Linked DNA regions of Homo sapiens: regions 2, 3 and 4 are each reported to be linked to region 1. Evidence: microRNA targets listed by miRTarBase, many of them from high-throughput screens and not tested one by one. Region 1 holds a microRNA gene; each other region holds the end of a gene's coding sequence.

Region 1 (4,000 bases):
AAAATTAGCTGAGTGTGGTGGCGTGTGCCTGTAGTCCCAGCTACTCAGGAGGCTGAGGTGGGAGGATCACCTGAGCCCAGGGAGGTCCAGGCTGCAGTGAGCTATGATCACGCCACTGCACTCCAGCCTCGGCAACAGAGCCCCTTCTTTAAAAAAAAAGGGCGGTTCAGTAAAATTATGTAATTTATGTAAAATTATGTATTATAAAATTATGTATTATCTCTTTGCCTTTTTCTTACCTTGCTCTTGATCTCAGCCTCAGTGTGAATCTGGGGAAATCTTATTGCTGTGAGCCTCAACTTTCTCATCTAGACAATGGGGATATATAGTACTTGCTCCATCCAGAGATAACCAAGTAGGTTACACAAGGTGACGGTGAGGTGGTTACAGTCTAGAGTGGGGGTGTCCAATCTTTTGGCTTCCCCGGGCCACATTGGAAGAAGAAGAACTGTCCTGGGCCATACATAAAATACACTAACACTAACAATAGCTAATGAGCTAAAAAAATTCGCAAAAAAAAAGTCTCATAATGTTTTAAGAAAGTTTACAAATGATGTGGCCTGCAGGTTAGACAAGCTTGGCCAAGAGGCGGAGGACCAGCTTTGGAGCCGAGCGCTGATTCAAGGGCCGCTTCTGCCCTCTCGTGGCTGGTCTTTAACCTGGGCAGGGCAACAGCTGCTGACTGTGCACAGCATGGGGTCACATGGGATTCGGGGGAAGTACCGGGCACAGAGCAGGCACACCCCAAAAAGCAGGTGCATCCACCAGCCAGGATTCAACCACCTGCTAAACGCCTCAACCGCAAAACAGAGATGTCAAAACAGAGATGCCCCCCACTGGGGGCCCGAAGTCAACCTCCTCTTTTTCTCTTTTCTGAATCTCCCTCCTCTCTTAGACCAGGAGTCCAGGCCCCAGTCTGTCCTGCCTCAGACCCAGGGGTCCAGGCTCCCAGCTTCTCCTCCCTCAGACCCAGGGGTCCAGACCCCCCAGCCCCTCCTCCCTCAGACCCAGGGGTCCAGGCCCAGCCCCTCCTCTCTCAGTCCCAGGGGTCCAGACCCCCAGCCCCTCTTCCCTCAGACCCAGGAGTCCGGGCTCCCAGCCTCTCGTCCCTCAGACCCAGGGGTCCGGGCCCCCAGCCCCTTCTCCCTCAGTCCCAGGAGTCCAGGCCCCCAGCCCCTCCTCCCTCAGTGCTAGAAATCCAGACCCCCAGCCCCTCCTCCCTGAGACCCAGGACTCACGTGCTCCAATTATAGCCTGTGGGCTCTGGGTTGCTGCGAGCATCGCAGGTCAGGGTGGCCTCATTCTGGCCAAGGTACCAGTTGTTATCATAGCCAGAGATGGATACCTCTGGGGGGTCTGCAGGAAATGGATACAGAGGTTCAGAGACTGGGAGGCTTTGGGGGGCCTGGGGCTACGCGGGATTCACGACACTGCAGGAAAAGGCCCGGGGATATTTGGAAAACAGCGGGAGCTGGAGAGGCCTAGGAGGAGTCTAGGTAGATGGGGTGCCACAGAGAGCAGAAGCCTAGGAGTCCTTGGTCAGTGGGGACATGGAGAAGGCTTCTGAGGAGCTGCTTTTCTCCACTAGCTTTCCTGGGTAGCCTGGACCAGGCATGTCTTGGGTGTCCTGCAGGAAAATGCCTCCTCCTTTTCTCACTCATAGGCAATGACCACTCACAACACACAGCAGTGTATTCAAGGTTCTGACAAGTCCTGCAGGAAAGAGTCCCAGATAACCCTGCTCTAGGCTGCTGCTCAGCCATCCCATACGTGATTGACAGCGAAGACCTTTCAATGTCCTTGGGGGCAGGCCAATGGGACAGGGTTTTATTCGGGGGCGAGGGGTAGGAGTCAGTGTAGATCTCCTCCTCGCTCAGACCCAGTGACAGTGTTGAGGGACTCCAGTATAGACAGTACCTGAGGGAATCTGTGTACCAATTGCCTGGCGGGGAGTAAGCAGTATAGACAATGGTGGGAGGAACAGTATGAATGATGTCTAGAAGAGCTTGTGTGGATATTACTGATGGGTTCAGTGTAGACAGGGTGTTGGAATATTACAGCAGATGCTATATTGTCGGGCCAGTGTTGAAAATGTGGTGGTGGGGGTGAGATCACCCCCACATATACAGTGTGTCCCCGGGAGCTGACGAAATTAAGACAGGCTCTGTGTATGTGTGTAGACAGTATTTGGATGAGCCAGTGTAGATGATGTGGGAGCTTAGTCTAGATCTGTGCTGTCCAATATGGCACCTACTGGCCACATGTGACTACTGAGCACTCGAAATATAGCCAGGCCGAAATACACACCAGATTTCAAAGGCTTTACTAGGACAAAATAAATGGGAAAGATCTCAAGAATAATTTTAAAAAAACAATTACAAGTTGAAATAATATTTTAGGTATATTGGGTTAAGTAAAGGCAATTATTAAAAATTAATTTTGGCCAGGCACAGTGGCTCATGCCTGTAATCCCAGTACCTTGGGAGGTTGAGGCAGGAGGATCACTTGAGCCCAGGAGTTTGAGACCAGCCTGGGCAACATAGGGAGATCCTGTCTCCAGAAAAAATAAAAATAGGCCGGGTGCGGTGGCTCACGTCTGTAATCCCAGCAATTTGGGAGGCCAAGGTGGGTGGATCACGAGGTCAGGAGTTTGAGACCAGCCTGGCCAACATGGTGAAATCCCGTCTCTACCACAAATACAAAAATTAGCTGGGCACTGTGGCCAGGGCTTGTAATCCCAGCTACTCGGGAGGCTGAGGCAGGAGAATCACTTGAACCCGAGAGGCGGAGGCTGCAGTGAGTTGAGATCGTGCCACTGCACTCTAGCCTGGGTGACAGAGCAAGACTTCATCACAAAACAAAAAAACAAAAACAAAAACAAAAACAAAAATTAGCTAGGCATGGTGTCACACGCCTGTAGTCCCAGCTACTCAGGAGACTGAGGCTGAGGTGGGAGGATCACTTAAGCCCAGGAGGTTGAGGCTGCAGGGAGCTGTGCCACTGCACTCCAGTCTGGGTGACAGAGTAAGACCCCGTCTCAAATAAATAAATAGATAAATAAATAAACAAATAAATTTCATCTCTTTCTTTTCTTGTTTTTGAGATGGAGTTTTGCTCTGCTGCCCAGGCTGGAGTGCAATGGCGTAATCTCGCTCATTGCAATCTCCGCCTCCCAGGTTCAAGTGATTCTCCTGCCTCAGTCTCCCGAGTAGCTGGGATTACAGGCACCCGCCACCGTGCCTGGCTAATTTTTGTATTTTTTAGTGAAGACAGAGTTTCACCACATTGATCAGGCTGGTCTTGAATGCCTGACCTCAGGTGATCCACCTGCCTCGGCCTCCCAAAGTGCTGGGATTACAGGCGTGAGCCACCGTGCCTGGCCTCTTTCTTTTAATTTTTTAATGGGGTGGCCGCTGGAGAATTTAAAATCCTATATGCAGCTTGCATGCTATTTCTGTTAGACAGCACTGGTTAGAGAGTCCTGGGGCTGTCAGTGGAGATAAATGTGTGGGTGTCAATGTCGATGATGCCATGAGGGAGCTGGTGGAGGTAACGCTGTGCAGGAGAATCAGGACAGATGCTGTCAGGGGGCTGTGCAGACAGAACACAAGGAGGCCAGTGTGGTGATGTGGGGTGAGACTGGATAGCCTGTAGATGAGCCAGTGTAGACAATATTGGGCAGAGGAACATGGAGACTACACTGGGGGACTCTGCAGACACTGCTTAGGGGAGCCAGCACAAACAATGTGAGAAGATCAATGCAACTAGCACCCGGCGGAGACAGTTGATCGTGGCTCAGGGGAACTGGTCGATACAATGTGGGAGGTGAATGCAGACAGTTCTCCAGGGAGTCAGTGTAGACAGTGTCAGGGGGCACTTTAGAGAGTGCCTAGGAGAACCAGTGTAGAAAAAGTGGGGTGTTTACATAGACAGTGGTCATAGGAGCCAGTGTAGACACTATGGGAGACAGTGAAAACACCCCACAGCTGGTGGCCAAAAT
Region 2 (4,000 bases), not on the chromosome of region 1:
GGGTCCGCCCAGTTCATGGAGCAGGGGTCTGAACAGGGGAACATAGGAGGAGGCCCAGATCGCGGCTGCTGTGGGTGAGTTGCACAGCCTCTCTCAAGCTGCAAAATAAGAACAGCAGCGCCTTCCTCAAGGCGTGGTTATGAGGACTAAAAGAAATAATGGATGCAGATAACTAGATCTAGATAACTAGATGCAGTGGCTGCCAGAGGTGAACACTGGCGGCTTGGATTGACACTGTCTTTGGTGGTACCCCCTCAGGCTGCCAGGAGATAGCAGAGGAATTCCGTGCCCAGGAAATCGACGGGCAAGCCCTGCTGCTGCTCAAGGAGGACCACCTGATGAGCGCCATGAACATCAAGCTGGGGCCCGCCCTGAAGATCTACGCCCGCATCAGCATGCTCAAGGACTCCTAGGGCTGGTGGCAGCCAGGATTCTGGCCCAGGGCGCCTCCTCCCGACTGAGCAGAGCCAGACAGACATTCCTGAGGGGCCCAGAAATGGGGCCGGTTGGAGGGCAGGGGCTCTCCCTAGGGGCATAGCTGGTGAGGAGGTCTGGGCACCTCCTCCATGGCTCTCAGGGGCCTTTCATTTCTGTGGGAGGGGCAGAGAGGTAGGTGGCACAGAAGATGGGGCTTTATGCTTGTAAATATTGATAGCACTGGCTTCCTCCAAAGTCCCAATACTCTAGCCCCGCTCTCTTCCCCTCTTTCTGTCCCCCATTTTCCAGGGGGTATATGGTCAGGGCTCCCCAACCTGAGTTGGGTTACTTCAAGGGCAGCCAGCAGGCCTGGATGGAGGCCTAGAAAGCCCTTGCCTTCCTTCCTCCCACTTCTTTCTCCAGGCCTGGTTAACTCTTCCGTTGTCAGCTTCTCCCCCTTCAGCCTGTTTCTGCAGCAGCCAGGGTTCTCCCCCCTACACCCTCTGCAGGTGGAGAGAGAGAAGCTGGGCCCAGCCGGGCCGTGCCTGCTGGCACAGACGCCTTAACGCTGTGTGTATGACTGTGTGACTGTGTGGGAGCCTGGACTGACAGATAGGCCAAGGGCTACTCTCTGGCATCTCCAGGTGTTTTGTAGCAAACAGCCACTTAGTGCTTTGTCCTGGACTCCACTCAGCCTCAGGATGGGGAATAGCCAAGAATGGCAGCCTCAGCGCAGAGGCAAGGTCAGAAAGAGACGGCGCTTCAGAGTTTCCTTTCCAGACACCCCTCCCCGCACTGTGAAGTTCCCCTGACCGCCCTCCTGGTTCACAAAGAGCATTAAGAAAGCTGCGGTGGTCTGAGCAACATAGCCCAAAGGGCTGAGCCTCCTGGCCTGCCTGCCCGCCCACCCTGGGAGTCCCAGTGGTGAGGCTCAGAGAACTGCTAAGGGGAAAGAACAGCTGGAGTTTCTGTTGATGTGAAGAAGGCAGCTCTTGGCCTCCCACTCCCACACTTCTTTGCCTATAAATCTTCCTAGCAGCAATTTGAGCTACCTGAGGAGGAGGCAGGGCAGAAAGGGCGAGGGCCTGCCTCTGACCTGCCGTGTCCTTTGCAGGAAGGAGGTAGGCACCTTTCTGAGCTTATTCTATTCCCCACCCACACCCCCAGGCAGGGTTGGAAATGAAGGACTTTTTTAACCTTTGTTTTGTTTTTTAAAAATAAATCTGTAAAATCTGTCTCTTTGGTGCCTTTCTCCCCTAGGAATGCCTGTCTCTGGGCCCAAATGGCTACTTTTCACCCATACAGACAGGTGGGTCCCTGGGCTGGGGAAGGGACCTTAAGTGGATGGCATATCCTCCACACTTTTCTGGAGCTGGGTCATTTGAGGGTGCCCTCAGCTGCAGTTCACACGGTAGATACCAGCTTTCTTCACACGGTGTCCCTTGGAGTGAGAGGGTCCAGAAGCCCTTTCTGCTCTGCGCCCCCCTACCCGCCATTCCCACTTGGGAGATGATGACTGTTGGGCTAGCAGCCTCTGGACACCTGGGGCAGAACCCAGACTCTCCCATCTTCCAGCACACACCTCTCGATAGAGCTGCACAGCATCCAGAATAGCCTTGGGATGGCTTTGGTTCACTGAGCACTTTTGCATGCTCAAATAGAAAATGATTAGGGCAGAGATGAGGCATCTAAGCCTTGAATAAAGAAGGAGAAAGGGCATTCCAGACCGAGGCATAAGTGCAAAGGCACAAGCATGAACGTGGAAGTGCAAATGAGAGGCAGGTGAGCTGGCTGGATTAGACGTGTGTGCTGCTAACCGTGACCTGTGTTGACCACATGCCTCTGAACCAGGCACTGTGCTAGAAATGAGACTGGGGTGAAGCACAGAATAACCATGTGCCCTCTTGCGTGGAGTGAAATCTACCCCACATCTATGGGGGGAGGGGAAAAAGAGGCAGCTTGGCCTTACTGCTCCTCCCCCTTCATCAGGTTTTTCCCTAAGGGACCATTTCTACCTGTTAAAAATTTAGGTTATGGCTGCTCACATCTGTAAACCCAGCACTTTGGGGAGGCCGATGTGGGAGGATTGCTTGAGGCCAGGAGTTTGAGACCAACCTGGGCAACATAGAGAGACCCCATATCTACAAAAAAATACCAAAAAATGGCAAGGTGGTGCATACCTGTAATCCCAGCTATTCTGGAGGCTGAGGTCGATCACTTGAGCCCAAGAGTTCAAGGCTGCAGTGAGCTATGATTGCACCACTGCACCCCCAACCCAGGTGACAGACAAAAACCCTATTTTTTTTTAAAAAAAAAGCAGGGGTGGGGGTGGTTTGAGGGTCAGGCCACAACCTACTGAATCACAGTCTCTAAAGGACAATTACTTACTTGAAAGTAACTTTCAAGAACCAACACTCACATCTTAATAACTCCTCTTTGGAAAGCCTATTAAAATGGAACTGTCTTGGAGGAGAAACACACTGATTAGTTGATCCCCAGGGGGTAGAACTAGGGACTGGAAAGCCTGTCCCAGGAGGCAGGGAATGGCTGGCAGGACCCTGAGCTGACGGGAGGAGGAGGATGCTGAGATTGGGGAGTGAGCCCTGGGGAGCCCCCAGGCAAGAACGAACGCCCCATGTGCTGCCGCCTCTCCTGCTGCTGGAGTGCAGGCCACGTGCGCAGGTGCACCACTGGCCTATAGGACTCTGGGCAGTTCTTTTCACTTTCTGGACCTTAATTTTCCCTTTATGGAAGAAAATGAAAACCAGGCCCCACCTGAGTTTGTTGTGTGTAGCAAAGAGGGAGGGAACCAAACCTACTCCTAAAAGAAGATGTGGTGAATTTGATTCACACCAATAAGTATCCATCTTCTTTAGATGAAAAGCTCCAACCTGCTGCAAGTTTGCAGGGTGCACCTGCAATAGGCATTTGCTATTCCTGTTGTTTACACTTCACACTGAATTTCACAGACCTATTTCCATCATGATCCACAATTTAAAGAAATATTTCCCAAACTTGTATACACATTTCAATATCTATCAACTGAAACAAACATTTCATGAAACAAAACCTACCCTTACGTACAATATAGAATATTTTCCATTGTATTCCTGTTCGTATTTTAAAAATCTTGGTCACGACCCACTAAACTCATTACACGGCCTTCAGATAGGTCACAACTGGAACTTTAAAAAGCACTGCCCAGAGTAAATCACAACGGTTCAACATCCACGAATTTACATGGTTCTCTCTCCTGGGTGACTGGTGTATGTACTGGTGTACATTCTACTGAGAAGGTAAAGGGCTCCACTAGGTGAACTGTCCAAGGTCACAGGTGCCGAGTGCCCTTCAGATCTGGCTGAGGCTCTGTGCAGAACGGCTTTTCCTGCGTGGCAAACACCATACCTTGATTGCCAGCTGTTCCCAAGAACCAAAGACACTTCCCCTGGGGAGGGAAGAGGAGTCTGTACAAAATGACAGAGCCTCCAGCCAACCAGAACTGGCCTACTCAGACCCACCCTCTTCCAGGTGATTGGCCCCAAAAGGGTTGCCAGCCCCACTCCACCTTGGGGCCAGCTTCCCC
Region 3 (4,000 bases), not on the chromosome of region 1:
TCGAGAGCCACTTTCTCAAGTGCCCCAAGCCCTCGGCGCACGAGATCACCGGCTTGGCAGACAGCCTGCAGCTGGAGAAGGAGGTGGTGCGCGTCTGGTTCTGCAACCGGCGGCAGAAGGAGAAGCGCATGACCCCTGCGGCCGGCGCGGGCCACCCGCCCATGGACGATGTATACGCGCCTGGGGAGCTAGGGCCTGGCGGGGGCGGCGCATCGCCACCCTCCGCGCCCCCACCGCCCCCGCCGGCGGCGCTGCACCACCACCACCACCACACACTGCCCGGCTCAGTGCAGTGACCCCGCGGGCCGGGCCCCCGCCGGCGCGCTGCAGGGCGCGGGCGCGCAGCCCGCCCGCGCGGCCTGGACTCTTTTTGTTCGGTTGCTTTGGATTTTACAAAAAAAAAAAAAAGCCCAGAAACTTTCGAACAAAACCAAACACCCGGACGACCCTCTCCGGTGAGCGGCGAAGACAGCCCGGTAGGCTGCGTCGCCCGAGCCCCGGGAGAGAGGAGCGAAGATCCGGAACTCGCCAACTCACCCCGGGCATCCTGCCCGCCGCCTGCTCTCTGCCCCCATCCCCTCGACGACCCCCGCCCCTGCCCCCCCGGGCTGTTCGGGGCCGGATCCCGGCAGCGGCCTCCCCAAAGCGACAGGTAACGCAGTGCGGGGTTAGGGATTCCCCGGGAGAGAGGACGAAGCGAGGAGAGTTCTCCATCCCCTCTCCCCGCGTGGACTCCTGAGCCTGCGGGTCCAGGGTGGGGGGCTGTCACTTTATTCGCTACACGCCTCTTCTCTCCTATAAGGATGCGCCCCACCCCGCTTTCCCCTTTCTCCGGGCTTGGTTTTTTACGGTTTTTATTTATTCGTGGAGCCTCTCGGCTCCTGGGGTCCTTCTAACTCCGCCCGCGCCCTTAATTTAAATCGCAGTATACTGTATTTATCGGGGCCCCGGAGGGGAGGTCGCGAGAGCCGCGTCTGTGTATAAAAGCAGGAAATAGCCAAAGCTTTAATCTAGCCTAATTTATTTTTCCCCTTATATTTCCCTACCCTACCCTCCCCCCAAAAAAAAGCAAAAAAAAAAAAAAAAAACTAACAAAAAAAATTCGAGTGTTCATTTTTCGTTTCGTTTCATCCGAGCCCCGGCTTGGTTCCCGGCCACGCCGGAGGGGTCTGCGCTCCCACACACCCAGACGGGAAGGGGCTTCTGCCCTGCTGCAGACCGACCGCCGCATAGCGCGGCCCCTGCTCCCCGCGGGGCCCTGCCCTCCTGGCCACACCAAACGAAACTTGGAAAAGTTAGAGAGATTGTTTTTTAACCAGCTGTAGAAATAAGCCGTTCCCTGAGAACCCTCCGCCTGATTCCCTGCAGCTTCCCTCTGCTCCCTTTCCAGCCCGCCGGGATGCGGGATGCCAGGGGAGGCCGGGAGAGAAATTCCCCAAGTTTGGGGTGAGGTGGGAACCATGTAAATATGTGAGATATGTACACACTGGCGGGGAGAAGAAACATTTTGTGCTTGGTTTTTATTTTTGGTTTTCCGGGTTACCCTTCCTTCCTACCCTAAAGGATTTTGTACACTGACTAATCCGAAAAAGATATTTTAATATGATTTCCGAATTTCTGACCCATCTCTATTTATTTTCTGGATGTGTTTGGAGCTTCCCCCTTCTCCGTTTCTTCTTCTGTTTGTTAAGGTTTGAATTTAAATTTTGTTATTTTATTTTTATTATTTTTTGAAACAATGTTTCGGTGCATTCTCTTTGTATCTTTATTGAAAAAAAAATAATGTAGACTGGGAAGTTCCCTTTATATTTATGTTATAGTAAATATTTTATTACTCACATAAACATGTACCCCAGGGCTGTGTCCTGTCCTTTTTACTGCTAGGGCTGGGTGGGTTTTTGGGGTGAAGCGATGGGATCCCCTGCTTCACCTCCCTGAAGTTCTGATCTCACCAGGAGAGATCTTGGAGGAAGATGACCCTGCAGACCTTCCAGGTGGATATCAGGACATGGGCAACAGTTGGGCCCCTGCCTCAGATGCATCAGTTTAGGGAAGATGAAGCTGCCTCGTGTCCCCCTGTCGTAGACAGACTCTCCTAGACCAAACCAGGGCCCGGGACAGTGAGCCAAAGACACCACATGGAATTCGGATCAGCCATTGTTCATGCACAACTCGACTGCTCTTCTCCACCAAGAAAGAAGCCCACCTCGGCCTGGGTCACCAGCCTAGAATCTATAATCCCCCACCTGACACCTCAACCCCCAACTTTCATTTCACCTTGCACTCTATATGAGAGGTCTGAGCCAACTTTACCATTCCCAGTCCTAGGGCACCTGGAAGCCTGGTGAGGCCCCACCATCCTACTCCAGCAGGCTCTCCACCCAAACTCAAATGGTGCCCAAGCCCCCCTGGATGCACTGGGAGTTCTAACAGCTTAGACAGACGTGGCTTTCATGGTCCTACGTGAGCTGGGTCAGCCTAGGGAGGGAGCCCTGCCAATTTGCTTGGGCAAAGCCGGTCTTATGTCTCTGCAAACAAACCGCTGCCCCAGCTTCTGTTGGGGAGAAGTGGAGGCACGGGTAACTGTGCCATCAGAAAGACCTGATATCTTCTTTCCAAGGTTGGGTACCCAAGACCCTCATCACCGCCACCACTGCAGGGAGTGATAGGAAGGAGAGCACAGACCTCAGATGCTGTCTTCTGGAGTGAGTCAGGGTATCTGGGGGCAGATCTGGTTCCCGACGCAGAGCTCCAGACTACCTGGGTTCCAGTCAAGACCTTATTTTCTCCTTTAAAACAACCCTTCTTAAAAATACTGATAAAAGAGCTCTTCCTGCTTCCTCCGTAGACGCAGTTCTTTTCCCCTCTCAGGAGAAGCCACATGCGGTTTCTCTCACTCTTTGTGAAGCCAAAGCTTGAAGGCACAATCTCTTAGCTGGGGAGAAAGCTGACCCTAGTGAGGGGGCGTGTGGGGCCCCTCCTGCCAGGGAAGCGGCCCAAGTCCAGGCCTGTGAGAGGCCTGGGCTCTAGCTGACGGTGTCAGGGATGTCCAGAGAGGTGTCCCCAGGGCCCCAAGTTGGTGCTCCCCGGCGGGGCTAGGGCCTCGGGATGACTGTGCCATGCTGAGAGTTCCTGGCGACTTTCTGCGCTCGGCCCTCACTCTTGGGGGGAATTGTCTCTGCAAGTACAAAGGCTGCCTCGGCTTCTAGAGGCCCAGCCCCTCACTCCCTGCTCCTTTTTTCTTCTCCTCCTCAGCTCAGTCCAGCCAGGTGAGTGAATAGCCCTGTAATTGGCACCTGTGTCCCAGCCGTTCCCCACACTGGTGGGCCAGGCAGCCTTCCCTCCCATGTTTCCTAAAGAGGAAGCTGGCAACATACCGGCCAGCTGGGCAATGGCATAGCCAGGAGCCACTGACCACCCTGCCTCAGCCTCTCATTTCCTACTCCACCAAGAACAAAACTTTGAAGCCGCCACACACTCCTCCCTGCTCCCTCATTTCTCCATTCCTGGATTTGTCCCAGCCTCAAGGCTCTGAAATGGAAGCAAATGAAGCTGAGAGCTCCCGCCGCCTGCGCGGCCCAGAGCCTCAGCAGGTTTTGAGGTTGGAAAGGGCCACCGGGAAGATGAGGCCTTTCACCGGCCTCTGCCTGCAGCTGACACCAATTGATTGATTGATTTCCTAATTGTCTGCTTAATCCTCTACAAGAGGGTGGGTTTATTATTTAAGCAAGTCAACTCAAAAATAGCAAAACAAAGCAGCCTCCCAAGAACCAGCAGCAGCTGAGGAGTAGAACAAAAAAAAATGAGAAAAAAAAAAAGTGGAAAAAGGGATGGAAGAAAATCTTTTACTTTGCAAGGATCTGGCTTAATGAGATACCAGCATGAGATAGCTACCTGGTGATCAACCCCTTGGTCGCAGAAGGCCCCTACATGGTAGGAATCTCAGCACTTTATAGGAAAGAGAAATCTTTTTCCCTGGATAGAATAGAGTTAGGACAAG
Region 4 (4,000 bases), not on the chromosome of region 1:
AGTTGAATCTCTGAATAGAAAAATAACATGCTCTGAAATAGAGGCAATAATTAATAGCTTACCAACCAAAAGAAGTCCAGGACCAGATAGATTCACAGCTGAATTCTACCAGAGGTCCAAGGAGGAGCTGGTACCATTCCTTCTGAAACTATTCCAATGAACAGAAAAGGAGGGAATCCTCCCTAACTCATTTTATGAGGCCAGCATCATCCTGATACCAAAGCCTGGCAGAGACACAACAAAAAAAGAGAATTTTAGACCAATAACCCTGATGAACATTGATGCAAAAATCCTCAATAAAATACTGGCAAACCGAATCCAGCAGCACATCAAAAAGCTTATCCACCATGATCAAGTGGGCTTCATCCCTGGGATTCAAGGCTGGTTCAACATATGCAAATCAATAAATGTAATCCAGCATATAAACAGAACCAAAGACAAAAACCACATGATTATCTCAATAGATGCAGAAAAGGCCTTTGACAAAATTCAACAGCCTTCATGCTAAAAACTCTCAATAAATTAGGTATTGATGGAATGTATCTCAAAATAAGGAGAGCCCTCTATGACAAACCACCAGCCAATATCATACTGCATGGGCAAAACCTGGAAGCATTCCCTTTGAAAACTGGCACAAGACAGGGATGCCGTCTCTCACCACTCCTATTCAACATAGTGTTGGAAGTTCTGGCCAGGGCAATCAGGCAGGAGAAAGAAATAAAGGGTATTCAATTAGGAGAAGAGGAAGTCAAATTGTCCCTGTTTGCAGATGACATGATTGTATATGTAGAAAACCCCATTGTCTCAGCCCAAAATCTCCTTAAGCTGATAAGCAACTTCAGCAAAGTCTCAGGATACAAAATCAATGTACAAAAATCACAAGCATTCTTATACACCAATAACAGACAGAGAGCCAAATCAGGAGTGAACTCCCATTCACAATTGCTTCAAAGAGAATAAAATACCTAGGAATCCAACTTACAAGGGATGTGAAGGATCACTTCAAGGAGAACTACAAACCACTGCTCAATGAAATAAAAGAGGATACAAACAAATAGAAGAACATTCCATGCTCATGGATAGGAAGAATCAATATCATGAAAATGGCCATACTGCCCAAGGTCATTTATAGATTCAATGCCATCCCCATTAAGCTACCAATGACTTTCTTCACAGAATTGGAAAAAACTACTTTAAAGTTCATAAGAAACCAAAAAAGAGCCCGCATTGCCAAGTCAATCCTAAGCCAAAAGAGCAAAGCTGGAAGCATCATACTACCTGACTTCAAACTATACTACAAGGCTACAGTAACCAAAACAGCATGGTACTGGACCAAAACAGAGATATAGACCAATGGAACAGAACAGAGCCCTCAGAAATAATACTACACATCTACAATTATCTGATCTTTGACAAACCTGACGAAAACAAGCAATGGGGAAAGGATTCCCTATTTAATAAATGGTGCTGGGAAAACTGGCTAGCCATATGTAGAAAGCAGAACCTGGATCCCTTCCTTACACCTTATACAAAAATTAATTCAAGATGGATTAAAGACTTAAATGTAAGACCTAAAACCATAAAAACCCTAGAAGAAAACCTAGGCAATATCATTCAGGACATAGGCATGGGCAAGGACTTCATGTCTAAAACACCAAAAGCAATGGCAACAAAAGCCAAAATTGACAAATGGGATCTAATTAAACTAAAGAGCTTCTGCACAGCAAAAGAAACTACCATCAGCGTGAACAGGCAACCTACAGAATGGGAGAAAATTTTTGCAATCTACTCATCTGACAAAGGGCTAATATCCAGAATCTACAAAGAACTCAAACAAATTTACAAGAAAAAAAAAACAACCCCATCAACAAGTGTGCAAAGAATATGAACAGATACTTCTCAAAAGAAGACATTTATGCAGCCAACAGACACATGAAAAAATGCTCATCATCACTGGCCATCAGGGAAATGCAAATCAAAACCACAATGAGATACCATCTCACACCAGTTAGAATGGCAATCATTAAAAAGTCAGGAAACAACAGGTGCTGGAAAGGATGTGGAGAAATAGGAACACTTTTACACTTTTGGTGGGAGTGTAAACTAGTTCAACCATTGTGGAAGACAGTGTGGCAATTCCTCAGAGATCTAGAACTAGAAATACCATTTGACCCAGCCATCCCATTACTGGGTATATACCCAAAGGATTATAAATCATGCTGCTATAAAGACACATGCACACGTATATTTATTGCGGCACTATTCACAATAGCAAAGACTTGGAACCAACCCAAATGTCCATCAATGATAGACTGGATTAAGAAAATGTGGCACATATACACCATAGAATACTGTGCAGCCATAAAAAATGATGAGTTCATGTCCTTTGTAGGGACATGGATAAAGCTGGAAACCATACTTTTCAGCAAACTATTGCAAGAACAAAAAAACCAAACACCTCATGTTCTTAGTCATTGGTGGGAATTGAACGATGAGAACACTTGGACACAGGAAAGGTAACATCACACACTGGGGCCTGTTGTGGGGTGGAGGGAGGGGGGAAGGATAGCATTAGGAGGTATACCTAATGTAAATGACGAGTTAATGGATGCAGCACACCAACATGGCACATGTATGCATATATAACAAACCTGCACATTGTGCACATGTAACCTGGAACTTAAAGTATAATAATAAAATGTACATATATATATATATATATATATATATATATATATATATATATATATATAAATGTTCCAAGAAAACATAGATCAGAGACCACACAAATAGATATAAGCATGTAATAATAAGTAGAAGGAACATTGGGTCAAGAGGGCAGAGTGGAGATTCAGCCTAGAGAGTCTTCCTTGGGCACCAGATTGGGAAATATTTTGCAGAGGTTATGATCATGTCTAGGATATTAAAGGTGCTATTAAGGTATCCAAATCTATCCAAATATAAGATTAAGTAACTGAAGTTCCCAAATGGTGACCAGAACACAGCAGTAGGTGATTTCTCTGAAGTTCAAACGGGTCTGTTGGGAAAAAGAGGACTCCCCATAAGAAGTAGGTCACAGCCCTCAGGGCTGCTTTTCAGAACAGAGCTCCAGTTCCCAGGTAACCAATCCTACAGAGACTATTGTAGGCGTTTGCCTTTCGGAGACTTAGACATTAGGTATGATATAGAAAAAAGATTTCCAAAATCTGAACTACATGATCGGGGACATGAACTTTGTTATCCAAATAGAGGCACTGCAGGAAGATGAGCTATGACTCAGAGAACAACTTGAAACTCGGTAGACAGCAGTGGAACACAGTGTCCTGGGTCAAATTTTCGGCAAAGGGAAATTGGGGCAGAGTTAGGAAATATAGTCTCATTATGAAAACAGCATTTCTTGGACCATGGTACTAGGGAGGGGAACTTAATTCTAAATCATAATATATGGGAGATTAAGTAAAATAAATCCCTTCTTTCTTATCAGTACTAGTGTAGAAAAAGGCAGGAAGAGCCTGTGGTTACATTGTTCCTTTGTTACAAAAAGTTAACAATGAACTTTAGCCTTAGAGAATTTGGAAACTCAGAATCAAAGGAACAAAACTGGGATCTGATTAATAACATTGAAAAGAATCAACATATTAAAAGCATATTATTCTCCTTTATAAATTCATTTGATTGCCCAAATCAATTCATAACTGCCCTCGTTTCAATCAACTACAGACAATCTCTTATTTCTTCAGATGTGTGATTTAGACACTTTAAATCTCTGTGCGGAATTGAAGTGCAGTTTTGGACATTTCTGTCTCATAAATAGCATCAAATTTCTCATTTTGGGCCACGGTGAAGTAATTCTTCCAGTCACCAGCCGTCCCTAAAGGTAAATAAAAAAACATAGGAAAGAATAAAATATTTCCATAAGAAGAAATCAGTATATACCAAAGGAAAAGATTAGAAGGCCTAAAGAAAGACCTTCCTTTTATTTGAATGAATTCAAACAGTC

Evidence for each region. Region 1 holds the annotated microRNA hsa-miR-4531 (AUGGAGAAGGCUUCUGA, at 1,551-1,567, shown strand). A microRNA usually pairs through its seed, bases 2 to 8, with sites in the 3' UTR of a target mRNA and lowers its output. Matches are read on the target gene's strand: a 7mer-m8 pairs with bases 2 to 8, a 7mer-A1 pairs with bases 2 to 7 and ends in A, and an 8mer does both.
Region 2: miRTarBase lists PHC2 as a target of hsa-miR-4531. Seed matches in the 3' UTR shown: 7mer-m8 at 833-839.
Region 3: the mRNA of POU3F1 is a reported target of hsa-miR-4531. Seed matches in the 3' UTR shown: 7mer-m8 at 707-713.
Region 4: miRTarBase lists SULT1B1 as a target of hsa-miR-4531. Seed matches in the 3' UTR shown: 7mer-m8 at 2,061-2,067.

Annotation. Positions count from the first base shown.
Region 1 is chr19:44,651,256-44,655,255 of GRCh38, reverse strand. It overlaps MIR4531 (microRNA 4531), which reads left to right and starts at 1,524; the gene lies at 1,524-1,570. It overlaps PVR (PVR cell adhesion molecule), which reads right to left. Exons shown (of 8, transcript NM_006505.5): 4 at 1,239-1,356. RefSeq lists an enhancer at 494-553.
Region 2 is chr1:33,321,278-33,325,277 of GRCh38, reverse strand. It overlaps PHC2 (polyhomeotic homolog 2), which reads left to right. Exons shown (of 15, transcript NM_001385109.1): 15 at 259-1,652. The coding sequence ends at 413. Among named protein-coding and RNA genes, the nearest start is that of A3GALT2, 2.2 kb to the right of the region's middle.
Region 3 is chr1:38,041,684-38,045,683 of GRCh38, reverse strand. POU3F1 (POU class 3 homeobox 1) reads left to right here. Exons shown (of 1, transcript NM_002699.4): 1 at 1-1,855. The coding sequence ends at 296. Among named protein-coding and RNA genes, the nearest start is that of POU3F1, 3.1 kb to the left of the region's middle.
Region 4 is chr4:69,723,330-69,727,329 of GRCh38, forward strand. SULT1B1 (sulfotransferase family 1B member 1) reads right to left here. Exons shown (of 8, transcript NM_014465.4): 8 at 1-3,871. The coding sequence ends at 3,759. Among named protein-coding and RNA genes, the nearest start is that of SULT1B1, 35 kb to the right of the region's middle.